Linked DNA regions of Homo sapiens. The protein of the gene in region 5 interacts with the protein of the main gene of each other region in a biochemical or structural test. Each region holds a gene or a part of one and is shown on either strand. Other genes may lie near its edges. The genes, in order: HTRA3, SIPA1L2, SNTG2, ARHGEF11, SCN4A, FRMPD3 and GIPC2.

The links.
Region 1: the proteins of SCN4A (region 5) and HTRA3 interact in a test that uses a peptide from one of them, tested with the Homo sapiens proteins (one large-scale study listed by IntAct).
Region 2: the proteins of SCN4A (region 5) and SIPA1L2 interact in a test that uses a peptide from one of them, tested with the Homo sapiens proteins (one large-scale study listed by IntAct).
Region 3: the proteins of SCN4A (region 5) and SNTG2 interact in a test that uses a peptide from one of them, tested with the Homo sapiens proteins (one large-scale study listed by IntAct).
Region 4: the proteins of SCN4A (region 5) and ARHGEF11 interact in a test that uses a peptide from one of them, tested with the Homo sapiens proteins (one large-scale study listed by IntAct).
Region 6: the proteins of SCN4A (region 5) and FRMPD3 interact in a test that uses a peptide from one of them, tested with the Homo sapiens proteins (one large-scale study listed by IntAct).
Region 7: the proteins of SCN4A (region 5) and GIPC2 interact in a test that uses a peptide from one of them, tested with the Homo sapiens proteins (one large-scale study listed by IntAct).

The regions. Positions count from the first base shown.
Region 1 is NC_000004.12:8,304,176-8,307,598, reverse strand, and holds the end of HTRA3 (serine protease HTRA3 isoform 1 precursor), read right to left. Parts: intron 3,416-3,423; coding exon 3,320-3,415; intron 1,629-3,319; coding exon 1,463-1,628; 3' UTR 501-1,462; downstream 1-500. UniProt on the Homo sapiens protein: Serine protease that cleaves beta-casein/CSN2 as well as several extracellular matrix (ECM) proteoglycans such as decorin/DCN, biglycan/BGN and fibronectin/FN1.
Region 2 is NC_000001.11:232,511,634-232,515,133, reverse strand, and holds part of SIPA1L2 (signal-induced proliferation-associated 1-like protein 2), read left to right. Parts: coding exon 1-1,277; intron 1,278-3,500.
Region 3 is NC_000002.12:1,359,849-1,363,348, forward strand, and holds part of SNTG2 (gamma-2-syntrophin), read left to right. Parts: intron 1-3,500. UniProt on the Homo sapiens protein: Adapter protein that binds to and probably organizes the subcellular localization of a variety of proteins. May link various receptors to the actin cytoskeleton and the dystrophin glycoprotein complex.
Region 4 is NC_000001.11:156,944,743-156,948,242, reverse strand, and holds part of ARHGEF11 (rho guanine nucleotide exchange factor 11), read left to right. Parts: intron 1-14; coding exon 15-62; intron 63-286; coding exon 287-474; intron 475-792; coding exon 793-939; intron 940-1,227; coding exon 1,228-1,307; intron 1,308-1,455; coding exon 1,456-1,581; intron 1,582-2,080; coding exon 2,081-2,198; intron 2,199-3,045; coding exon 3,046-3,224; intron 3,225-3,500. UniProt on the Homo sapiens protein: May play a role in the regulation of RhoA GTPase by guanine nucleotide-binding alpha-12 (GNA12) and alpha-13 (GNA13). Acts as guanine nucleotide exchange factor (GEF) for RhoA GTPase and may act as GTPase-activating protein (GAP) for GNA12 and GNA13.
Region 5 is NC_000017.11:63,938,054-63,941,918, reverse strand, and holds the end of SCN4A (sodium channel protein type 4 subunit alpha), read left to right. Parts: coding exon 1-1,148; 3' UTR 1,149-3,365; downstream 3,366-3,865. UniProt on the Homo sapiens protein: Pore-forming subunit of Nav1.4, a voltage-gated sodium (Nav) channel that directly mediates the depolarizing phase of action potentials in excitable membranes.
Region 6 is NC_000023.11:107,596,152-107,599,651, reverse strand, and holds part of FRMPD3 (FERM and PDZ domain-containing protein 3), read right to left. Parts: intron 2,332-3,500; coding exon 1,510-2,331; intron 1-1,509.
Region 7 is NC_000001.11:78,044,807-78,048,765, reverse strand, and holds the start of GIPC2 (PDZ domain-containing protein GIPC2), read right to left. Parts: upstream 2,801-3,959; 5' UTR 2,672-2,800; coding exon 2,432-2,671; coding exon of another isoform or gene 2,282-2,431; intron 1-2,281.

The DNA.
Region 1 (3,423 bases), on a different chromosome or scaffold from region 5:
AAATTGCTCTCTGCCTCAGTTTCCCCATCGCTGGATGGGTGGCAGGGAGGGTGAAATAGATGTGAGAAAGGGTTCTTCATGTGACCAGACGTGCACAGTGGGGCTTAGTGGGAGCTCCCCGTAAGCCGGGTGGCTTCCCAAGTGCTGCATCTGTCACCTTGCATCCCAGGGCATCCAGGAGGTCAGCACAGCAGAGCCAGCCTTCCTGCTGGACAGAGGCAGAGGCCAAGGTAGGGAGGGGAACATCTCTTGCCCAAGACCACGAAGCCGGAAGTAAGCGGAGGAGCCAGGACTTGAGCCGGGCTGCCTGACTCGGAGCTGGCCCTCCACAGCGCCACATGACCCCGAGACCTGGTGTGCCCCAGTGCTCAGCTGTCATAGAAACCCTTTAAAGGCCCGTGTCTTTGCAGGTATGCCCAGTCATGTGTTAGATGGGTCCCCAGGAAGAACCCTGGCCAGTGGTGGGTAGGCTGCCCCAGTGCCCTGCTGGCTGAGAACCGTGTGCTTGTAAACTTTATTTTCCATACAGTAGAGAAACATACAGTACAAGCAACACTGGGAATCCATTTACAGCAAAGCTCACAAATGCCCCTTGAGACACACTCGTTCCCTGGATGAGGGGGTGGTGCCCAGCAGCCTGCATGCCTCTGGGCGGCACTTCCATGCGAGCGGCTGCTGCATCCCAGAGCTGCGTGGGAAGGGGAAGCCGGCTCAGTCCTCACACCCCGCAGCTCCACGTCCACTGTCCTCTGCAGGCTGCCCCATGGCCGCCTTGGGGAGGAGAAGCTTCCCCAGGCAGCAGCCAACTTTCCACGTGCTCCCCGCGGCCTCCTGCCTGCCTGGGGAGGAAAACCTCATGGCAGGGCGGGGCTCAGCTCCGCAGCCAGGGGGCATTCACTCAGTGCCTGCTCTGGGCTGGACCCCACCCCCGCACCCCAAAGGGATCAGATGTGACCTGTCCTCCAGGGACCCCAGGCTGGCAGGCAGCAGCCCTGGCCCTACAGCTTGGTAAGTCCTAGGGCAGAGGGAAGCTGGGGCCTCAGGTCAGGTGGGCGTTTGTCAGGGGGGAAGAAGCTTGGCAGCCCAGACCTGCAGTAGGAGGGGCAGGAGCAGGGGATACTGCAGATGGGTGTTCACAGGGGCAGAGGCGGGAAGCTAGGAGAGGAGGGGACCTCCATGGAAGGCAGTTTTGTGAATATCCGGAGAACTTGGAAGTGACTTTCAGGATCATCTGTACAAGGGGATGTTGGGCTTCCCTCCCCGGCACCGGGATGTGGATCCAACACTCCCCAGGCGGAAATTCGGGCCCCTGGCCAAGCCCAGCCTCCGCTCTGCCCCGGACAGCCAGGAGGAGGCTGCCGCCCTGCTGAGGACCGACGGTGGTCCTTCGTCCTGATCTCGGGGGGGCGCTGCCCTCCGTTGTCTGCAGGCTCTGACGCTTGGCGCTGGAGGAATGCGCCCCTCACATGACCACCTCAGGTGCGATGCTGAAGAGGAGGTCGTCGTTCCCCCGCCGCACCTCCAGTAGGAGAGGAGACTCGGTCAGCACGGCCTCCTGCAGCTCACTCGAGTCCACTAGAGGACGCCCGTTGACCTTGACGATGATGTCACCATCTTGGATGCCGCCTCTGCCAACAGGAGAGACGGGGTCACCACCCACCGCCTCCCCAGGCACAGCCTTCCCAGGCCCGGCCCAGAGCGAGGCACAGTCAGGGTCAATGACAACATTTCAACAAAAGTCATCTCGATGGGAAAGAACAGTGCCCCAGCCCCAAAGCTCTCACACCAGAAGAAAACCAATGTCACACGACAGGGAAACAACCTTTCAAACTGCTTCTCCCATGCGTCAGAAGGGTGGGTTCAAGCTCCCGCTGCAGCCCTCCTAGCTGGGCCAGGCACTCTGTCCCCTTGTGCCTCAGTTTTCATGTCTACCATCCTATGTGGAAACGCACTTTGCAAATTATAAAGGCCCAGGAGTAGGTTCTGCTGTTACTGCAGTTACGAAGACGTCTATGTGGGAGGCAGAGCTCACGGGGCCAGCCTTCTCTCTGCATGAGGCTCACTGAGACCTCCCCACTGCTGGGAAGGAAGGTGATGGTACTGTGCTCAGCTGCGTGGGCACCAGCATCAGGACCCTCACATGCCAGCTGTGTGACCTGGAAGAGTAACTTCTCTAAACCTCAGTCCCTCCACCTGTAAAATGGGTGAGGGCAGGAGCCTGCACCTCCCTGGCTGCAGTGAGGATTAACTGAGATGTGTGTGGAAAATTTCACCCAATTTCAACAATTTTTACTGCAGGCCTGCTGCGGGCAGGACAAGTGTGCCATCTGTGCTCATCACAGAAGTTCACGCGGGGCCTCCCACCTTCAAGCCCAGCCTCTGAGGATGCACAGTACAGTCGGCCCTTGAACAACATGGGTCTGAACTGTGTGGGTCCACTTATATGTGGATTTTTCCCACTGCAGATGAAGACCGAGGCTAAGGAGGGGAGGCAACTGGTTCAGAGCCCTTCTTGGGAGTGGGTCAGCCATGCCAGCATGTGGTAGTGTCGCTGCACGCCTGCCTCAGCCTATGGTGTTGCAATGCTTAACATTTCTCTAGTACTGGAAGACTTCAAAGAAAGCAATCCTTTATCCATTTCATCTACAAAGTCTCCTGGGGGTAGAAATCCCAGCACTTTGGGAGGCCAAGGCAGGTGGATCGCCTGAGGTCAGCAGTTCAAGACTAGCCTGGCCAACGTGGTGAAACCCCTTCTCTACTAAAAATACAAAAACAATTAGCAGGGCATGGTGGTGGGCACTTGTAATCTGAGCTACTCAGAAGGCTGAGGCAGGAGAGTCGCTTGAGCCCAGGAGGCAGAGGTTGCAGTGAGCTGAGATCGCGACACTGCACTCCAGGCTGGGCAACAAGAGGGAGACTGTCTCAAAAAAAAAAAAAAAAAAAAAAAAAAAAAAACAATAGGCTGAATTATCTCCACTTTACAATGAGGAAGCTGAGTCCCAGAAAGACCCAGGACCCAGGCTGGTCCCCAGCTAGTGAAAGAGTCTGGCTTGGAGTGGGTTCTTAGCCCAACAGGGACTCTTCAGCCTCTGCTTCTCGAAGGAAATGACATTGTGGGACTTAGGACGTACACAGTCAGGGCTCTAGGGACCATTCAGCTCTCCAGCCTCCTCTGGCTTAGCAGACACGCTAGAATCCACCTGCCCCTTCCCGGTCACTTTGCTGGGAAGCTCAAGGTCACATGAGGTCAGTGGGGCAGCCCCAGCCCAGACCTCACGCCTGCCCCATGCCTCGAGCGATCTCCTCTGGCAGAGCCTACCTCTGAGAAGGTGAATTCGGCGCAACCTCTTGCACATAAATTCCACTGCTGACCTCTGGGAAGTCCGGGTTGCTGGCCTTCAGCTCATCCACCAGGCTGGAAAG
Region 2 (3,500 bases), on a different chromosome or scaffold from region 5:
AGCTGTGCCCAAGATGGGTGTGAGAGCAAGGGTGTCTGAATGGCCTCCTAAAAAGGACTGTTCCAAGGAGCTAACATGCAAGGCACTGTGGGAAAGCCGGTCTCAGACCAGTTATGAAAGCATCACTTCTGTCCTGCAGAATGGGCAGAGTGACCAGAGTGAAGGTCAGCAAGATGAACAGCTCGATCTGGACTTCGTGGAGGCCAAGTACACAATCGGAGACATCTTTGTCCATTCCCCCCAAAGAGGACTTCACCCCATAAGACAGAGGAGCAATAGTGATGTCACTATCAGTGACATTGATGCCGAAGATGTCTTAGACCAAAATGCAGTCAACCCCAACACCGGGGCTGCCCTGCACAGGGAGTATGGAAGTACTTCATCCATCGACAGGCAAGGCTTATCTGGTGAAAACTTTTTTGCTATGCTCAGAGGGTACCGAGTAGAAAATTATGACCACAAAGCAATGGTCCCTTTTGGGTTCCCTGAATTTTTCCGCTGTGACCCTGCAATCTCTCCGAGCCTTCATGCAGCAGCACAGATTTCTAGGGGAGAATTTGTCCGCATCTCAGGATTAGATTATGTGGACAGTGCCCTCCTGATGGGGAGAGACAGGGACAAGCCTTTCAAACGGAGGTTGAAATCAGAGTCGGTGGAAACATCTCTCTTCCGAAAGCTTCGAACTGTTAAAAGTGAGCACGAAACTTTCAAGTTCACGTCTGAGCTGGAGGAGAGCCGACTGGAGAGGGGCATTCGCCCTTGGAATTGTCAGCGATGTTTTGCACATTATGATGTCCAGAGCATTTTGTTTAATATCAACGAAGCCATGGCTACGAGGGCTAATGTGGGGAAAAGGAAAAACATAACCACTGGGGCATCTGCAGCATCCCAGACTCAGATGCCTACGGGCCAGACAGGCAACTGTGAGTCCCCTTTAGGGAGCAAGGAGGACCTCAACTCCAAAGAGAACCTGGATGCCGATGAGGGTGATGGGAAAAGTAACGACCTCGTCCTTAGTTGTCCTTACTTTAGAAATGAGACTGGAGGGGAAGGCGACAGGCGGATTGCGCTCTCTCGAGCCAACTCATCCTCTTTCAGTTCTGGGGAAAGCTGCTCTTTCGAATCGTCACTCAGCTCTCACTGCACAAATGCAGGTGTCTCCGTCTTGGAAGTGCCCAGAGAAAACCAGCCTATTCACAGGGAGAAAGTGAAGCGCTACATCATAGAACACATTGACCTTGGGGCCTATTATTACCGCAAATTCTTCTATGGGAAAGGTAAGGAAGAGCCATGGGCGTTTGCATGTGTCTCGGGAGTAGTTTTTTAAGAACCAGTCACAATGTTTTGCTTTGTGTTGGAGCACCTTCCTCAGAGTGTCCAAGGCCATAGTCCACTGGGCCTGACCTTGTTCTCCATCATGGTCCCTCCATAGCTTCCAGGCTAATTTTTTCTTTAGAAAACTGCAATTCCATGCCTTTGTTTATGGGTAGTCCTTAATGTGTAAATGCCCTTTTGGTTTCTCTTTCTGTCATTCTTTGTCTGCCAATTTGTGATCATCACAAATTCAGACTTGATTTAGATTTCATCCCTTGTAAGAAGTCTTCCCTGATTAATTCTGTCCTCCTCCTATTCCTCTGAATAATCTCTTATGCTGCTTACAGTGGAAAATTCTGTGTTTCCCTCACCTCTCTAATCTTTCTGTACTTTGCTTCTCCAGCATTGCTGTATGTGTTGGACATGTTAAATCTTTGTTGAAAGAATGCCTGAATTACCACAACAGACAAATTTTGTTTTCATGTAGTTCTATAGATGGGCTTAAATGTTAAGACACAAGTGATAAATTATTTAATTCTATGTCAAATAAATGGTTTTTGCTTTACGTATATCTTCAGGCTTGAAGGATGCATTCTTCAGAGGTCATGTAGTTGAATCCTCAACCTTTAAATAAGTGTCCCTAATTATCCCAGGGCTAGGAGAATCTTCTCTGATTTAAAGACCTACAGAGAAACAGGTTCCACATGTGTCAGTAACACATGCCGAGGAAAACACTCCGGCACCTCTCACCACCTTCTTATTGGGTGCAGCTGGTGTCCTTCACGCCTTCATTATAGTGCAGCTTACTTTTCAGAGCTATATTTTTCTGTCTTCAGTTTCACCCGTCAGCCCTCTTCCTGCTCCCAGGGATCCAGGGATAACCTCACAGAGTGCCTGAGGAGGCAGAGGGTGGGCCCCGCTACTCTCCTCCTCCTTTTTCTCAGTGCATAAACTATTCTGCTTCTAGCACAGATAGCTGGGAGCTCACTGTACTTTTATTTATTTATTTTTTTTTTTACTTTAAGTTCTGGGATACATGTTCTGAACATGCAGGTTTTTTACATAGTTATACTTGTGCTATGGTGGTTTGCTGCACCTGTCAACCCATCATCTGGGTTTTAAGCCCTGAATGCATTAGGTGTTTGTCCTAAAGCTCTCCCTCCTGCTTATGAGTGAGAACATGCAGCGTTTGGTTTTCTGTTCCTGTGTTAGTTTGCTGAGAATGATGGTTTCCAGCTTCATCCATGTCCCTGCAAAGGACATGAGCTCATTCTTTTTTATGGCTACATAGTATCCATGGTGTATATGTATGGTAGTTTCTTTATCTAGTCTATCATTGATGGGCATTGGGGTTGGTTCCAAGTCTTTGGTATTGTAAATAGTGCTGCAATAAACATATGTGTGCATGTGCCTTTATAGTAGAATGATTTATAATCCTTTGGGTATATACCCAGTAATGACATTGCTGGGTCAAATGGTATTTCTGGTTCTAGATCCTTGAGGAATCGCCACACTGTCTTCCACAATAGCTGAACTAATTTACACTCCCACCAACAGTGTAAAAATGTTCCTATTTGTCCACATCCTCTCCAGCATCTGTTGTTTCCTGACTTTAATGATCGCCATTCTAATTGGCGTGAGATGGTATCTCATTGAGGTTTTGATTTGCATTTCTTTAATGACCAGTGATGATGAGCTTTTTTCATATGTTTGTTGGCCGCATAAATGTCTTCTTTTGAGAAGTGTCTGTTCATATCCTTTGCCCACTTTTTGATGGGGTTGTTTTGTTCTTGTAAATTTGTTTCAGTTCCTTGTAGATTCTGGATATTAGCCCTTTGTCAGATGGACAGATTGCAAAAATTTTCTCCCATTCTGTAGGTTGCCTGTTGCCTCTGATGATAGTTTCTTTTGCTGTGTAGAAGCTCTTTAGTTTAATTAGATCCCATTTGTCATTTTTGGCTTCTGTTGTCATTGCTTTTGCTGTTTTAGTCATGAAGTCTTTGCCCATGCCTATGTCCTGAATGGTATTGCCCAGGTTTTCTTCTAGGGTTTTTATGGTTTTAGATTTTAATTTCATCAGTATTGGTTTCTGTCTTGAGAATATTTGTGTAATTTTTGACTGTAGTTTGTTTTATTGGAGTGGGTTGGGGAGGGTGGGTAACACAGACCTTAGGAGGTCACTCTGT
Region 3 (3,500 bases), on a different chromosome or scaffold from region 5:
TTTTTTCTCTTTCATTAGAATGCTGCCTTTCTGTAGTAATATTGAGAAACATTTTACTTTGTCCATATCTTCTTTCCATTTAACAATATTACCAAAAACAAGCAAACAAAGAAACTAAAGCTCAATTTATTCAACCAAAAATGGTTATTTATCTTCATTTCTTTACATTTAAGGGCACTGAACAAATTCTATCCCATTTTTCCCATAGGAAAAAAAAAAGTACATTAAATGATTGAAAGAAGTTATCTGTATTCATTTTCTATCGATGCTTAACAAATTAACACAAATATAGTAGATTAGAGACACACATTTATCCTCTTACAGTTCTCTAAGAACTTGTCTCTTAGGGCTAAAATCAAGGTGTTGGCTGCTTTCTCCTGCAGCCTCTGGGGGACAGTCTGTTTTCTTGGCTTTCCCAGCATCTGGAGGCTTTGCCCTTGTGCTCTGAGCTCACCTGTGCCAGAAAGCTCCAGCCACCGCAGCTTTGGAAGCATGCCTCCCTCTCTGCCCTCAGAGTGGAGGATCTTGTATGAAGCCTGGATCACCAGCCCAGCCTGTTCAGGAGAGCTCTCTCTGGGGTGTGTTCCTTCCAGCAGCACAGCTTAGAAGGAAGGTATAGGGTGGAAGTTCAAAAGGATCAAGATATTTTTATTTCCAGAAGGTTATTGGACTCTTTGTGCACTGGCACCTGCCACAACAAGTGAGGGGAAGCTCCTTGCCTTTTCTATTTCCCTTATATTTGTGTGACTAAAAGAGGCTACTCTAGTGTTTTTAATTTCCTTTTCTTAAAAACACAAACAAACAAAAAAAAAGTCTGTCCCTAGGGGATTTTCTTTCCTTCTCACTCAGACAGAAGCAGCAAACATACGGTGTCTGATTTCACCCCCCTACATCCAGCATCATACACAGATGAGCAAACCCTTCACTCAGGAAGGGGATGAGTGATTTTTCTTTCAATATTTGTAGAGATGGAGTCTCTAAATAAGAGAGCAGTGTCTGCTTGGCCTACCATTGGAGCCTGATTCTGCATAACGATTCCAGTCACCTGCGTGTCCCAGTGGTTTTTTGTCTTACTTAAGAGAGTTCTTTTGGAGATCCCACCCACAGGCTCTGACCTTATGGAATATTCAAAGCTGATGCAGTCCCCAGCGCTGTCTCTTCCATTCCACTAGCATCCATCAACTCAGTCAGCTCAGACACAGCCCTGAGCAGTAAACTGCGTCCTTGGGGCCTTTGGTCCAAGCCTCAGTGCTTTTTCTAGCTTTGCCTTCTGTGCTTCAGCCACTGGATTCAGATTCCATTGTCCCATCTGTGGGGGCCAACGTGAAGCTTTAAATAAACATGTAAACATCTTTTATTTGTTACAGCCTGTGACATTATGATTACATCATTCTCCACCAACAATAAGAAAATTTACATTACAATGATTTGTCCCATTGAGTGTGTAGCACGAAATTCTCATGGAATTTAATAAATGGTCATCAAGTTGACCCATTTAAAAAAAAAAACTCACAGAATTTTGAAAACCACAGCATGGCAAATCATTATTGGAGACAGACAGTGCAATTAACACAGTGAGGTGGCTGAGAAGTTCCACAATAGCAAAAGTATCCCGCCTTCTTCAATCTACTTTTCTCCAAATCTATGCAAACAAAGAGTGTTTAAAAAATATAACTTTTTAATATCAAACACATTTTGGGAAATGCTGCTGTGTTGATACCATCACATTTCAGTAAAACTTCCATGAAAGTCACCGACGCTGAGCATTTCAGTAGAACTTCCACGAAGGTCACCGATGCTGAGCATTTCAGTAGAACTTCCATGAAAGTCACCGACGCTGAGCATTTCAGTAGAACTTCTGTGAAGGTCACCGATGCTGAGCATTTCAGTAGAACTTCCATGAAGGTCACCGATGCTGAGCATTTCAGTAGAACTTCCATGAAGGTCACCGATGCTGAGCATTTCAGTAGAACTTCCATGAAAGTCACGGATGCTGAGCATTTCAGTAGAACTTCCATGAAAGTCACCAACGCTGAGCATTTCAGTAGAACTTCCATGAAGGTCACCAACGCTGAGCATTTCAGTAGAACTTCCATGAAGGTCACCAACGCTGAGCATTTCAGTAGAACTTCCATGAAAGTCACTGATGCTGAGCATTTCAGTAGAACTTCCATGAAAGTCATTGATGCTGAGCATTTCAGTAGAACTTCCATGAGAGTCACTGAGGCTGAGCATTTCAGTAGAACTTCCATGAAAGTCACTGATGCTGAGCATTTCAGTAGAACTTCCACGAAGGTCACCGACCCTGAGCATTTCAGTAGAACTTCCATGAGATACACCGATGCTGAGCATTTCAGTAGAACTTCCACGAAGGTCACCAACACTGAGTGTTTCAGTAGAACTTCCGTGAAAGTCACCGACGCTAAGCATTTCAATAGAACTTCCATGAAGGTCACCGACACTGAGCATTTCAGTAGAACTTCCGTGAAAGTCACCGACGCTGAGCATTTCAATAGAACTTCTGTGAAGGTCACCAACGCTGAGCATTTCAGTAGAACTTCCACAAAGGTCACTAACGCTGAGCATTTCAGTAGAACTTCCATGAAGGTCACCGATGCTGAGCATTTCAGTAGAACTTCCACGAAGGTCACCGACGCTGAGCATTTCAGTAGAACTTCCGTGAAAGTCACCAATGCTGAGCATTTCAATAGAACTTCCATGAAGGTCACCGACACTGAGCATTTCAGTAGAGCTTCCATGAAGGTCACCGACACTGAGCATTTCAGTAGAACTTCCATGAAAGTCACCAACGCTGAGCATTTCAGTAGAACTTCCGTGAAGGTCACCGACGCTGAGCATTTCAGTAGAACTTCCGTGAAAGTCACCGACGCTGAGCATTTCAATAGAACTTCCACGAAGGTCACCGACGCTGAGCATTTCAATAGAACTTCCGTGAAAGTCACCGATGCTGAGCATTTCAGTAGAACTTCCATGGAAGTTACCAATGCTGAGCATTTCAGTAGAACTTCCATGAAAGTCACCAACGCTGAGCATTTCAGTAGAACTTCCACGAAGGTCACCGATGCTGAGCATTTCAGTAGAACTTCCACGAAAATGACTGACACTGAGCATTTCAGTAGAATTTCCATGGAAGTCACCAACGCTGAGCATTTCAGTAGAACTTCCATGAAAGTCACCGATGCTGAGCATTTCCATAGAACTTCCATGAAAGTGACCGGCGCTGAGATGGAATGACTCCTGTGAAACCCTCACAAAATGGACCCCCCCCATGAAAGAGGAACCATGAATATTTACCTGATAACAAGAAGTACCACAAAAGACCCTGGCAACACCACAAGCTGCACAAAGACCACTGCAACCTTGTGCAAAGACAAGTCTTCTATGAGGACACAAGCTCCCCTTGCTATTGATCCTTGTAGCCAAGGATAACGGTTTCAAAACAACTTCTGTAACCTCCTCACTTTGCCTTTAAGCTTTCC
Region 4 (3,500 bases), on a different chromosome or scaffold from region 5:
CATTCCCTCCACAGGTCTCTTGAGAACCCAACCCCTCCATTCACTCCCAAAATGGGCCGCAGGTAAGTGATGGGCACGGTGGTGCCTCTGTTTGGTGTCTCTGTGTCCCATCCACACCCAGCTGCTCCTCTCACCTGCAAGGGGCTGGTTGGGTGGCTGTCTCCTCTTCTGGGCCCACTGGTTTCCCATGTGCATGGGGCAAGCAGGTCGGGCAGGAGAGGGAGGGCCAAACCCTCTGTGTGAGTTCTTCCTCCTAAATGAAGCTGAGCTGCCTGTTTTCCCCCAGGAGCATTGAGTCCCCCAGTTTGGGGTTCTGCACAGATACCCTCCTTCCCCACCTCCTAGAGGATGATCTGGGCCAGCTGTCTGACCTGGAGCCAGAGCCAGATGCCCAAAATTGGCAGCATACAGTGGGCAAGGATGTGGTGGCTGGGCTAACCCAGCGGGAGATTGACCGGCAAGAGGTCATCAATGGTGAGAACGTGCTCCACTGCCCCCAGCTCCGCTCACACGTGTGGGAATAGGTCCAGAATGCCTAAGACACAAGGGTGGGAAAGAGGTAAATAGGGTGGGGGGCCCCTGTGTGCTGGAGCAGGTCCACATTGCCTGTTGCTATAAGGTTCCCCTCAGTTCTGGCCCTTGGAGTAAGAGAAAAGTTGCTGTATGATCTGAAACTGGCACTTCAGTTCCCCCAAAAATAGAGTGGTGTGGGAACCAGGTCAGGGACTCTAGATACTTGCTGATCCGTTTTCTCCCTGGCTTTCTACCCTCCTTGTCACAACCACCGCTCAGAGCTGTTTGTGACTGAAGCTTCCCACCTGCGCACACTCCGGGTCCTGGACCTGATCTTCTACCAGCGAATGAAGAAGGAGAACCTGATGCCCCGGGAGGAGCTGGCCCGGCTCTTCCCGAACCTGCCTGAACTCATAGAGATTCACAGTAAGGAGCCTGTGCCCCTCCAGACTCCTCTTCTGCTGCCCTTCAGCTTCCTGTTCCACTTTGGCCCCACTGCCAGGACCTCCCTGAGTAGGTAACCTCCCACCAATCCCTGGTGAGAAAAAGATCTGTGGACAGCCTGAAACCAGCACTGGAGTTCACCCCGAAAGTACAATGGTTTCCAGACCCTTCCCATGGCACTGCTGTCAGAGATTCACTTCTCTCTGTCAGAAAGGTTCTGGCAGTTGAGCTCAACCCCAGGCATTTCTATTTGTTCTCTTCCTGCCCCAGATTCCTGGTGTGAAGCCATGAAGAAGCTCCGGGAGGAAGGCCCCATCATCAAAGAGATCAGTGACCTCATGCTGGCCCGGGTATGGCTCCAAACTTCTCCCTCTTGGCAAGGAGGAGATTGGGGGAGGCAGGGTCTCATTACCCAAGGCCAGAGAATTTGGCAAAGGCAGGGGTCTGGTCCCAGGCAGGGGTTTGATGCCTGGCCCCGTGTCCATTCTGCCTCTTCAGTTTGATGGCCCTGCCCGAGAGGAACTCCAGCAAGTGGCTGCACAGTTCTGTTCCTATCAGTCAATAGCCCTAGAGCTAATCAAGACCAAGCAACGCAAGGAGAGTCGATTCCAGCTCTTCATGCAGGTGCGTCCTTGGCCATGCCTTGGCCTTCCTTCATCTCCATCAAGGTCACCAAGGATCTCCTGAACTTCTCTCCTTCTGGCCACATCATCCCTGTCTACAGCAACTCCCTCTACCCTTCGACACACGCTCCTCAAAAGCACTGACTCACTCTAGACAAAGAGACTTCTGTTTGTTGGAAAGAATCCTGGATTAGCAGTCAGAGGCCTGGCTCACCCACCAGCACCTGTGTGTCCTGAGATGGATCTCAGTTTCCTTGTCTATAGAATGGCAGCAATATGCCTGCCCTTCTGTTTTGACCATATCCCTTTGGATTGGTGTCTCCCTGCCACCACACACCCTTCTCTACATCTTTAAGGAAGAAGCTTCCACTGCCATTTCTGAGTGATCCATCTGGCGTTAGGACCTGTTTGTCATGTTCACACCCATCTTGGCCCTGAGCCCATAAGCCAGCTCCCAGCCACGCTGACATCTCCTCCCTTCTGTGTCTCCTGCTGTCTAGGAGGCTGAGAGCCACCCTCAGTGTCGGCGGCTGCAGCTGAGAGACCTCATCATCTCTGAGATGCAGCGGCTCACCAAGTACCCGCTGCTGCTGGAGAGCATCATCAAGCACACAGAGGGTAGCACCTGGGGAGGGGCTGGCATCACAGGCAGTGGGCCTCGTGCCAGACCCTCATTCTGACACTGCTTTGTGACCTTAGCAAGTCACTGTGCCTTGTGGTCTTTGGTGTCTTCGTCCTTTTTCTGTTGTGGGGTGTTTCAGAGAAGAAAATGATTGTAAATGTCCTTTGGAAAATATAAGGTGTTTAATAGTGGGAGGAGTAGGGGCCACCATCGAAGGCCACCTGTGTGGGCCTTTGTGCAAATCCAAGGAAAGCATCCGGTGCCCAACACAGGCTGGCACTCAAGGGCACCTGGGTCCCTCTGGTTGCATGGGGCTGGATTTTATCCCCATTCATGCCCCCTGCAGTGCACAAAAGACACAGCCTATGTGGTTACACTAGAGGGGCAGGGGACCAGACTGAACAAGAGGGTCTAGCCTCAGGTTATCACTCTCCCTGGGATCCTGGGCATCTTTCACTACCCCCAAATTTCAGACATTGGAGTCAGGACAGAGAGGTGTTAGGAACCCCAATCTGATTTGAACAGGCTTTCTAGAGGCATAATTGTGGCCATTTACCACAGTCTCTGTCCCTTGCATCTGTAGAGCTGGTTGTAGTAGAGGCAGGGATTCCCAGGAGCTATCAGCGTCTTCAAAGCAGTGATCTGTCTGAGACCTGAAGATGCTCAGTAAAAGTTACCCTTACCACTTGGGGTCCTCATGTGAGGCAAGGGTGGCTCCCCTCCACCCACGCCTGCTGGTTTGAAGCAAGCCAGCTGCCATGGATGAATAGGCAGATAACAGCTGGCGCCATGTTGGACTTCTCAGGCAGGAGCCCCAACCATCTCTTCTGTCCATTTTGGTAGGTGGCACCTCTGAGCATGAGAAGCTGTGCCGGGCCCGGGACCAGTGCCGGGAGATTCTCAAGTATGTGAATGAAGCGGTAAAACAAACAGAGAACCGCCACCGTTTAGAGGGCTACCAGAAACGCCTGGATGCCACCGCCCTGGAGAGGGCCAGCAACCCCCTGGCAGCAGAGTTCAAGGTAGGAGGCAGAGGCTGCAGCAGTCAACCCCTCACACTTTGTGGGTACCCTTAGGAGCAGAACACTGGTCAGGGCTTGGAGAGTCTTAGAGGTAGGAGACAGAGACCAGATAGGGTGGCACAATGGAGCCCCAGAAGACACACACCCTGCTATTGTCACCCTGTCCCTAGATGGACAAGGCAGGCCGCCCCACCTAAGAAAGACTAGATGTTGGAACTCAGCCTGAGAGAGCAGGGGATGGGGTAGAACTGGAGGTAAGGTGGAGATCTTCTGGGA
Region 5 (3,865 bases):
TTGGGCGTGTCCTGCGGCTGATCCGCGGGGCCAAGGGCATCCGGACGCTGCTGTTCGCCCTCATGATGTCGCTGCCTGCCCTCTTCAACATCGGCCTCCTCCTCTTCCTGGTCATGTTCATCTACTCCATCTTCGGCATGTCCAACTTTGCCTACGTCAAGAAGGAGTCGGGCATCGATGATATGTTCAACTTCGAGACCTTCGGCAACAGCATCATCTGCCTGTTCGAGATCACCACGTCGGCCGGCTGGGACGGGCTCCTCAACCCCATCCTCAACAGCGGGCCCCCAGACTGTGACCCCAACCTGGAGAACCCGGGCACCAGTGTCAAGGGTGACTGCGGCAACCCCTCCATCGGCATCTGCTTCTTCTGCAGCTATATCATCATCTCCTTCCTCATCGTGGTCAACATGTACATCGCCATCATCCTGGAGAACTTCAATGTGGCCACAGAGGAGAGCAGCGAGCCCCTTGGTGAAGATGACTTTGAGATGTTCTACGAGACATGGGAGAAGTTCGACCCCGACGCCACCCAGTTCATCGCCTACAGCCGCCTCTCAGACTTCGTGGACACCCTGCAGGAACCGCTGAGGATTGCCAAGCCCAACAAGATCAAGCTCATCACACTGGACTTGCCCATGGTGCCAGGGGACAAGATCCACTGCCTGGACATCCTCTTTGCCCTGACCAAAGAGGTCCTGGGTGACTCTGGGGAAATGGACGCCCTCAAGCAGACCATGGAGGAGAAGTTCATGGCAGCCAACCCCTCCAAGGTGTCCTACGAGCCCATCACCACCACCCTCAAGAGGAAGCACGAGGAGGTGTGCGCCATCAAGATCCAGAGGGCCTACCGCCGGCACCTGCTACAGCGCTCCATGAAGCAGGCATCCTACATGTACCGCCACAGCCACGACGGCAGCGGGGATGACGCCCCTGAGAAGGAGGGGCTGCTTGCCAACACCATGAGCAAGATGTATGGCCACGAGAATGGGAACAGCAGCTCGCCAAGCCCGGAGGAGAAGGGCGAGGCAGGGGACGCCGGACCCACTATGGGGCTGATGCCCATCAGCCCCTCAGACACTGCCTGGCCTCCCGCCCCTCCCCCAGGGCAGACTGTGCGCCCAGGTGTCAAGGAGTCTCTTGTCTAGCAGGCAGCATCGGGGTGGCCCACTGAGTCTCGGCATAGTCCCCAGAGCTCCCCCGTGGTGCCTGCACACAGAGTGAGGGAGGAGGGCTTTGAATCTGGGACTGTGCCTGGCTCCCTGATGGGGGACAGGATTTGGCCACACTGGGGCTGACACCCAGGCCCGAGCGCCTGCGTTCCCAGACCATGGGAAATGGGAATTGCGCTCAGGGGCTCCATGCTGGGTCTGAGGCCCCTGCCTCCAAGATTTAACCTGCAAGTTGCTCTGACCTCCTCTGGGCCCTGTCGCCCCTCCTTTTGGCCTGGGGGAGGTCAGAACATTCGAATCTCTGCCCCTCACTTGAGGAGGAGCTGGCCTGCGGTGGAGGGATCAGTTGCCCCCCATCACCAGAGTCTTAAGGGTCACTGGCCTCTCCCCAGGAAGTGGCTCAGACCCCTCAGCCCCAGCCCAGACAAAGATGTCTTAACCTCAGGGAGTGCAGACACCTAACCCCAGGGCACTGCCAGCCCACCCCCTTTGACTCTGGGGTGCAGCTTCACCCACCAGGCCAGCTCAGGAATTCCCTGGAAAAGGGAAATGTGACTGGTTCAGAAATAGCTCCTCAAAGCCTCAAAACCTGATTGGCCACTGGATCCTGCTGCTTTGGGCTGGGATGGTGACTCCTGAAACCTCTTCCTAGGCCACGTCCAGGTCCGTAGCTCCCCTGGCTGGCTCCTAGGGGAAGAGCAGAAGGAAGGATGCCACTTGGGAATGAATTGTCCTTTTCTAGGAAGCACGGGGGAGTGAGACAGGCTGGGTCCTGCCAGCTGGATCGCTGCACATGGCCTGAGCATCCAGACCTGAGCGGGAGTCAGGGACCTGCTGCTCAGTAAGAAGATTCTCGCCCCTTCCCTCTCTCCCTGCCTCACTCCTCCGTGAGCACCACCAGGGCTCCAGGAGCCTCATCCAGCCTCAGAGATCTCCCTTCTCATCTCCCCACGCCCGTCTCTTTCTCACCTTTCCCACCTCTCTCCCCAAAGTGATCCTAAGAATGTACAGTTGAGCTCAGGTTAGATATTTCGACCCTGGGGCGTGCAGCAGGGAAGGCCCAACTGGTTCAGGCTCAACCTTCCAACTTCCTGTGGCCTGAAGAAGCACTTCTGCTGCATCGCTGTTCTGGGCATGGCAGGGCCAGGCCTCTGCTGGCTCAGGAGGAGGGGTGAGAGACCTGCTCAGGCGTCGCTGGATTTATTCACTTGTGTGTGTACCTGTGGCTGTGTGTCTGCTTGTATGCTTTTATAGGCCTGTGTGTATAGCTGTGTGTGTGTTCAAGTGCGTGACTGTATGTGTGTGTGTGAACCACTGTGTACTGGAGCCTGCATTATGCACGTGTCTGGGTATCTTTGTATATATGTGTATATATGTGTGCCCTGGACTGTTTCAAGGTCCATGGAGTACGGCTGGTGTGTCATACTGTGCAGGCCTGTCCCTGGGAGTGTTCCCGTGCCTGGGAGAGTGGACCTGTGCTGTGAGTGTGTGGATGCGTGTGAACGCATGTGGTAAGGTGTGTACTCAGGGCATTCTGTTGGCCTAAGTGCCTCTTCTTTTTCTTCTTGTTTCTCATGAAAAGTTTGATTAAAATTCAGGAAGCAGCAAAACCTTCAAAACAAGACATGTATGTGTGCTTGAGTGTGTGAACACGTGTGTGTGTGTGCACATCTACATGCCATGCCTATGGGCCAGAGTTGTCTTTATTGTCCACCATGCTCTCTCACCTGCTCCCAGTCCTGCCTGAACAGCCCTCTCTCTCACTCCCCTCTCCTCCCCTTCCTGTTTCTCGTTGTCACACCCATGGCCTCAGCCCTGCTCCCTGCCTCCTGCCTATGTCTCCTCTATGGAAGGAGGCCTCCACTCCTTCCATCTCTTCCTTCAGAAGTTTCGTCTAATGGGGGCAGTCTCCCCTTCCTGGCACATTGCCCCTCTGCCTTGCCCTCCTGGGCCCTGGGCTGGCACAGCCCCTGGAGCCTCAGAAATCTGTTTGATTGGATATTCTCCTCGGACTGTGTGCAGGTTGCAGAGGAAGAGTAGATGAGCCGGGTCCGGCCTCTCCCTGCCTGTGGCCCCTCCCCTGCAGACGGATGCCCATTCCTGCCTGGTCCAGTGGGGAACAGGTCCCACGCCAGGCCAGCAGGCGGGCTCCTTTGTACAGTTCTTACAATAAACCCTCCTTGGTGCCTCTGGTATGTGGCTTCTCCCTTCTGCATGTCAGCATGTGGATGCGGATGGGGGCTGAGGGCAGTGAGAAGCAGAAAGGGTCGGTGGGGATTGGAGCCAAACGTGGAAGACACGGGAGCCTCTCAGGGGGCCAGGCAGGATAAGGAGGCCCCAGCTCCCCGCTCTGGCCCAGTCCAGCTCTCTCCAGCCTCCTTACAAAAGCCCCTTAGCTGGAATCCAAGAGACCAGATAGGATCAGGGGTCAAGACCTGGCTCCCACAACAGGCAGCACCACACTCCCTCTCTTCCAGGTGATCCCTGTTGGGACTCTGTGTCCCCAGCTCCTCCTCCCCAGAGGCCCCTTCACTTCTCTGCCCATCTCAGAGGCCTCAAGGTGCCTGTGGGGTACACAGCACAGCCTCTCCCTCTCCTCAGAGGCGCTGACCCCAGGACTGACTTCTGACCCCAGATAGCCCAGGGTCACGTGGACCCGTGACTAAGAATATTCTTATGCGGCAAGTTTAGCC
Region 6 (3,500 bases), on a different chromosome or scaffold from region 5:
TAGATTCAACAGCTAGGAAATTTTTGTTAATTGTCCTAAAGAGGGGCTGGCAAAGAGAGGTCTCTCTCTATCCCTCCTCATCTGGCCAGGCCCGCCTACAGTCATTGCAGCTGAGGCCATTTAGCTGAGCTTGTCCTCTCTCCAGCAGCCACGTGGGACTCAAGCCTGGGAGCAACTAGCACTCTCTCCAGACTCTAAGCAAAGAGAAATGCCAGCCCTGGGGGCCAAATACATGGGGGTTGTCCAATGTCAAGGGTGTCCTCACACATGGAAAAGGCAGGCTCTCTCTGACCCCAATCCCTCGTGGTCCCTATTCCTCCCTATTCCTTTTCTGTTGCTGTGTCATTTACCTCTTCTCTTTCTTTTTTCTTCTTTTTTTTTTTTAGAGTCTCACTCTGTCACCCAGGCTGGAGTGCAGTGGTGCAGTATCGGCTCACTGCGACCTCTGCCTCTCAGGTTCAAGCGATTCTCCTGCCTCAGCCTCCTGAGTAGCTGAGACTACAGGTGTGCACCAGCCCACCCAGTTAATTTTTGTATTTTTAGTAGAGACAGGTTTTCACCATGTTGGCCAGGCTGATCTCGAACTCCTGACCTCAAGTAATCTGCCCACCTCGGCCTCCAAAAGTGCTGGGATTACAGGTGTGAGCCACCACGCCCAGCTCTCTTCTCTTTTTTTAAGGTGTATGTATATGGAGGGACATATGTGTGACTATGGGTATGTGTCTGACATGTGTTTGTCTACAAGATGGACATACATGTGTTTATAACAGGGAACAGCATGCATGTTGTACGGTTTTCCTGTGAACTAATACTTAGTTACAATAGCTACCACTTACTGAGGCCTTACTGTGTGCTAGGCAGTGCTTACATGCTTTGCATGAATGATCTCATTCAATCCTTGTGACAACCCCATGTGATAGAACTACTTTTATAAAACCCATTTAAGATGATGGAATGAGGTTCAGAGAGAGTAAGTGCCTTGCCAAAGGTTACACTGACAATGATTGAAGAAACCAGGACTTCGGTGCATCTGATTCAGAGCCCATGTTCTTAGGCAGGATAAAGACCTCAGCCATGAGCAGTGATGGCCCTTGGCTCCCCTGGTCCCAGGTCACTAGGTAGTGAGTTGGTCGTTTTCCTTTTCTTTCAATCATGTGCATGCTGGATGTTCTGTTCTTCACCTGTCTTCTACATCTCTCACAGTTTTTCTCTGATCCTCTATCCTGGCCTGCATCCATAGCTGTCATGACCCCAATCCCTGGGATCTATCTGTAAGGCATTTCCAAAGAGATGCAATGACGAGAGCCAGAACTCTAGCTAGAGCTGAGCAGCTGCTCCCTGCTGTAACATCATTGCTCCTCTGACCCTATCTAAAGAACCTTTGGTACATCCACTGCCCTGACATACCTCAGTGACTCTGACACCTATTTGGGAAGACACAATGTTACCTACTGGCCCTTGTTGGACAAGAGAAGGGGGTGGAAAGAGGGAGAAGGAATCGGTCATTACCTGCAGTCTGTGGGGGTGGTGGGTGTGGTCCATCCTCGGATGCAGCCAGGGCTTCTAGAGCCTGCAGAGTGGACACCAGGGCATCATCTAGCTCCTGGGCATGATCTCGAACTGTCCGGGTCTGCACACTGTCAATCAATGTCACTGGAATCTCATCGTACAGAAGCCCACGCAGGTGGCGTCCTTGTTCCTGGCTCTGGACAGCCCGGCGCTTGGGGTCATCCTCATCAGAGCTGTTGTCTCGGAAACCAGGGGGTGGGGCAGCAATGGCTGGCAACAGAGAAGTTGTCTCATCTTCCTCCTCCTCCTCCTCCTCACTCCCAGGTGGTGGGAGGGACATCAAATCTACTATATTGTCACGAGAGGAGCCAGGCTTCCCACCTTTGCGAGGGCCCAGCTGCTCCTGAAGTTTGGCTTTGCAAGAGTCACAGTAGAAATTCAGGGCTTCAGCCCCAAGGGAATTGTCCAAGGTGTAGGACCGGGCCCTGCTGGCACAAGGCTCGTGGTCTAGGCTAGCTGCATCAAAGTCATCAGGGACTACCTCATAACCTTGGCCAGAGCTTTTGGATGTGGGGTCAGACTTGGTTCGGGGCCTGGTCTCCTCAAAGAAGATTAGGTTCTCGTTGACATCTGTCCGGCTTTCCTGCTCCTTCCTTTGTTCCCGCATATGGAGGTAGCAGAAGCTGACAAGCTCAGAGTCGGCAGGTGGGGGCGTGCAGCGGCTCGATTTCCTGGGGCTGGTGCCCACGCTGCCCACATAACTACTCTCCTTTTTCCCCAGGTGGCCCCCAGTGACAGGGCGGTGGGCGCTGTGCATGTAATCTAAACCCAGAAAGAGAATCAACAGATGAGCCCTGGTGCCAAGGATTGTGAATGAGCTCCCTTGTTGTCTCTGGCCCATGTCTCTGTAGCACAATCAAGTGGCAGGTCCCAAGACAAAGCATTACCTGGCTGCCAAAGATTAGAGGTAGGGAAGTTGATGAGCTATGTTACTGCTGACCCTGAAAGTAGAGTGAATAGAGTCTAATAACCTGAGCTGCTAATAGCCCCATCACCTCTGAAATGGGAAAAGGCATGGGGTATGGTAGGGGTCGGGGTGAACACCCTGGTTTAGGGCCTGGTATCTGGGCACAGCTGGACTCTTACATGGATACCCTCTATCTGAAAGTCAGCTGTAAACGTATGTCCCACTTGGAACTGTTCCTACCCCTGTCCCCACCCCTTTTCAGAGCTTTTCCACCAGTGCTCTGTTGTTCTTGTTATCTTGAATCTCTTCTAGCAGAAGGAAATAAATCTGACAAGTTACTAATGCTTTAGTCAGAACCTGTTAAACAGGCTACATATAATGCCGAAGAGTTTGCATTTCAAAGAGGCCTGTTGATGGAGGGATCCTAAAAGAATAAGGCTCTATATTAGAATTCCGGGGTCTGAATGTGTAAAGTATATGGGAGATATGCTGGGATGTGCATATGTGGGAGGAGGGCAGGGGAAGCATTCTTATAATTCTTCAAATTTTATTCTTTTCTGCATTCATGCAGGGCCAGCCCTACCTGCTACACATACATATGGCAAATGCTCTCGTCAACCGCTCTTAATGATGGTAGGTGTGTGCATCTGAGAATTATCTATAGCAAATGCTTTATCTGTGAATACCTTCTCTCACTGTTTTTGGAGCTCTTCCCCATTTTATCTGTGAGAATATACTCGGACAGCAGACAGACAGATAACAAACAAGCACTAACTTAGGCTAAGGTCCTAATATACATGATCCTACTTATTCTTCATAACAACCCAATGAGGTAGTTATTATCATTATTCACATTTTAAGGATAAAGAAACTGACTCACCTAAGGTTACATAGACCAAGTGGTAGACTGGATTTCCGCCTAGGTCTGAAAGACTTCAAAACCCATGTTTTTAGCCATTACCCTTATAACTCATCATGGTGGTCAAGATGCTGGAAAACAAGCCTTCAAAATGCCACTCAAACT
Region 7 (3,959 bases), on a different chromosome or scaffold from region 5:
GAAAACTTGGGTAACAATATAGCTTCATGGGAGGAAAAAAAAAAGATGGGCACAATGGCTCCGTGTCTGTGTTATTCAAGAGACTGAGGTAGGAGGATCACTTGAGAGTAGGAGTTTCAAACCACACTGAGCAACACAGAAAAACCACATCTCTAAAAAAAAGTTTTTTTAATTAGCCAGATGTGGTGGCACATGCCTGTAGTCCCAGCTACTTGGGAGGGTGAAGCAGGAGGATTGCTTGAGCCTAGGAGTTTGAAGCTATAGTGAGCTATAATCGCACCACTGCAGTCCAGCCTGGGCAACAGAGTGAGACCCCATCTCATTAAAAAAAAAAGAAAAGAAAAACAGAAAACAAAAAAAAAGAATACACTGAATTCAAATCCAGGCTCTGCCACTTGCTATGTGTAATTCTGGAAAAATTCTGAACCTCAAAGTCTGTTTCCTCTCTGTGAAGTGGGGATATTAATAATAATACTTACTTCTTAGGGATTAAGTAGATTGAATAAAATCATGTACCTTGAGCTCAGAATAATGTCATATATAATGATGAGAAGTGTTAATGCAAAATACACATGCTCCTCTACTTACCAAGGTGTTATGTCCCAATAAATCCATTGTGAGTCAAAAATATCATAAGTCAAAAATGCATTTAATACCCCAATAAACCCATAAAGTGGAAAAATCTTAAGTCCAGGAAGTTACATCCTAATAAATCCATGGCGAAGTCAAAAATCTTAAGTCTAACTATCATAAACCCAGGACCATCTGTAACTAAAACTGAAGTCCCTGGTTACAGCAAAGACATTTAAAGTTGTCAGTTAAGTATGCTAACAAGCTCACTAGCTTAGGAATCAGAAGATCCAAGTTTAAATTACAGTCAAGTTTTTTTTTGCTAGGTATGTGACCTTGGCTAAGGGCCAATCACTTTGTACTTCAGTCCTTCATTTAACTGTTAGGTATTAATCATATTAGTTACCATGTATTAAGCCCTAACCATAAACTATGCAATCTGATACGTTTACATACGGACTCCACTCTTCACAATACTCTTCAAGACAAATATTCTAATCTCTATTTTACAGATGGCGAAAACTGAGAGAAGTTAAACTCATTCAAGTCCACACAGCTAGTAAAGGGTAGAACCTGGCTCCATGTCCAAGTTATCGTATTTAACCTGCCACCTGCCTCCCCTAGAGATCAAAGGAAAGTGTCCTGTGAAAGTGTTTTTTGAAAAAAAAAAAATCCTATATAAATGTGAAGTATTATTAGTATCCTATATCAATACAAATAATTCACAGATGGGTTTGCGATTTGCCCCTTAGTGCCTGGGAACTTCGAAAGAACAAAGGGTTACACTTTAAGCTCTCTTTCGTCTCCTCTTGGAATTTTGCCTTGACCTCAATTTCCCTTGAACAGACCTGATAAACAACTAATTAAAGAACTCCAGGTGCCGCTGTAGGCCTCAAAGACAGCTCTCTGCACTCCTCTGAGTCCAGGGCAACAAAATTATATGCTTTTCCTAGAAATGTGGACAAAATATTTTGTTGAGCTAACTTTTCACACCTACCTTTGCAGTTCACTTGGGTTAGCACAAATAAAGTGGTCACATAAACGTTCACATAAACTAGTGCTTTAGGTCATGCCTGTGTCAAACTTAGTTCCAGGCCCCCATGAAATCTAATTAAAGCAAATTTCAGTCCCTTTTTAAGGATACGATGTAAAAGAGCTGATCTTCCTCATGAAAATTTTGTTAACTAGTCCCACGTGATTAAGTATGAATCTCTAGGTTATCCACTCTTGGAATAACAGCCCAGCTTTTTAAACTTCTTGGAAATACCACCAAAGGGTTTCTGGTGCTGATGTTAGAAATGACAGATTGGGGGAAAGTGGGCCTCCGTTTGGTATTACCTGGAAGGCTCTTCAATGTTTTCCCCCCCACTTAATCTGGGTATCACCTGCAAGGCACTTCTATTTTTTTTTTCCCCCGTTAATCTAGGGAGATGACCTGCGTGACTCTCACGCCTGCGGAGGAAACAGGAGAGTAAAGTCCAGATGAAGTGGAGGGTATTAATCTGCCCCGCCAGATCTCGAGTCTGGGAAGGTGCTCACGCCTTGAACGGCCGGCGGAATCCGGGACATCTGGAGCAAACACATTTGCAAGCGGAAGAAAGGTTGCCTCCCTCAACCCGCTTCCCAAAGGCCAGATCTCGGAGCAAGGGGGACTGTGACTTTCTGCGGTCCTGCCAAGTTAAATTTTCCCTTCCAGGGAAGGCACACTCACTTTCCCCCGGGACGCCCCCGGCGGACTCAACACGGCATCGGATTTCGCGCTCCGGGAAACGCCGCTCAACCCTCCTGGGCCCACAGAAATACGCGCGGCGCGGCGCGGCGCGGCGGAGAGGCGGGAGAGCCTGAGCACCTGGCGCCTTACCTCCGACGGCGAGATTTCAAACGCGCCCGCGATCTGGGCGTAGAGCTCCTGGATGCTGGAGAAGCCCTCCACTCGGCCCGTGGCACTACCGTGCGCCAGCTGCGCGTGGAAGACCAGCCTGCGTGCGGGAGCCCGGGACGCTGAGAGGCTCCCGCCGCCCGCGCCCGTCGGCTCGCCCTCCACCAGCCCGGCGGTCTCCTTGGACTTGGCCTTCTTCTTCCCCCGCAGCTTCAGGGGCATCTTGCAGGGCCGAGAGCGCGGGCCCACCTGCGCTGCCGTCCGCCGCCTCCTCCCCCCGGCGCCTCGGACTTTGCGCCCCGGGCCCCGCGCAGGTAAAAGCAGCCTCCAATGGCAGCCGCGCTTCCGCCTGGCTGCGTCGGGTCAGGGCCCCGACCTCCACCCCTGGACCGGAGCAGCCGCCCGCCCGCCCAGCCTCCCCCGGGATGGATCTGGAGAGAAAGAAAGTTACGTAGTCCCTCATCCTATCACCAGGTTTATCCCTACTCCTTGTAAAAAATGGCTCTATTTACGTGAACGCCTGAGGATGCCGACGCTACAGAACAATACGCCTTAGAAGGCAAACACGCTGGCCCTTCTCTGCTTTTCATAAATCTGTAGTAGGCACCCACGCATGATTTGGCCACAGGCCTTCGGGTCCGTACGTCTGGACTTTCGGGGATAGGGATTTAAGTAGAAGTCAACCTTCGTCTGCATTTTCTGCGTCTTACGCTCTGCAGGGCAGAATTGGAAGAGAAAGTCACATAACCTTGAGCTTGGTGCTACGTTGTATTCATAAACCCCCTCAGCCGGGTCCTTGGCACCTCTGAGTTTCCCTTTTGCCTATTTCCTGGGCTGCTTCCTCTCCCAACATTCAGCACGCCTCCAAAGCCATTTGCCCCAGCTCTGCCCTTCTTAGTCTCTACAGAGGACCTTGCCTCATATAGTACAAAGAAAATTGAGGCCATTCGGTGTGAAGTGTGAGTTCCCTCAATTCCCTACCTCGCGTTTATTGCATTGTTTTCAAGTCCAGTCCCCTCCAACTACGCTTTTTACAACAAAGCAAAACAGTCTTGAATTATTAGCTACGAAATTTCCTCACTTCTCTGCTCTTAGAAGCACTGTGATCAGACTTTGCCCCCACACTACTGAAATTTCACTTACTATGCAATTTCAGTGGAGTGAAATCACTATCATATCTTAATTACCAAATACAAGTAATTCTTTTAGGTTTTTATCTTACTTGGTCTGCGTTGCCCATTTCATTCTTCTTAAATTTTGTCCTCTTTTGGCTTCCTTACCTCTCCTCTCCCCGTCCCCACCCTGCTCCTTGCTAACTGCTAGTCTCCAGGAGTTGCATTCACCGACAGTTTTTCCTCGACAAACTTCCCTTCTTACTTAGCTTTGCATGTTCTTCCTGTATGGTCACATCAACATTCTCGGTTTCACAGACGTTGTTGTCTACCAAATGTCTCCAACTCCAGCTTATTCTACCAGAAAGGGAATGTACTGTAGGAAACCCAAATTGAGA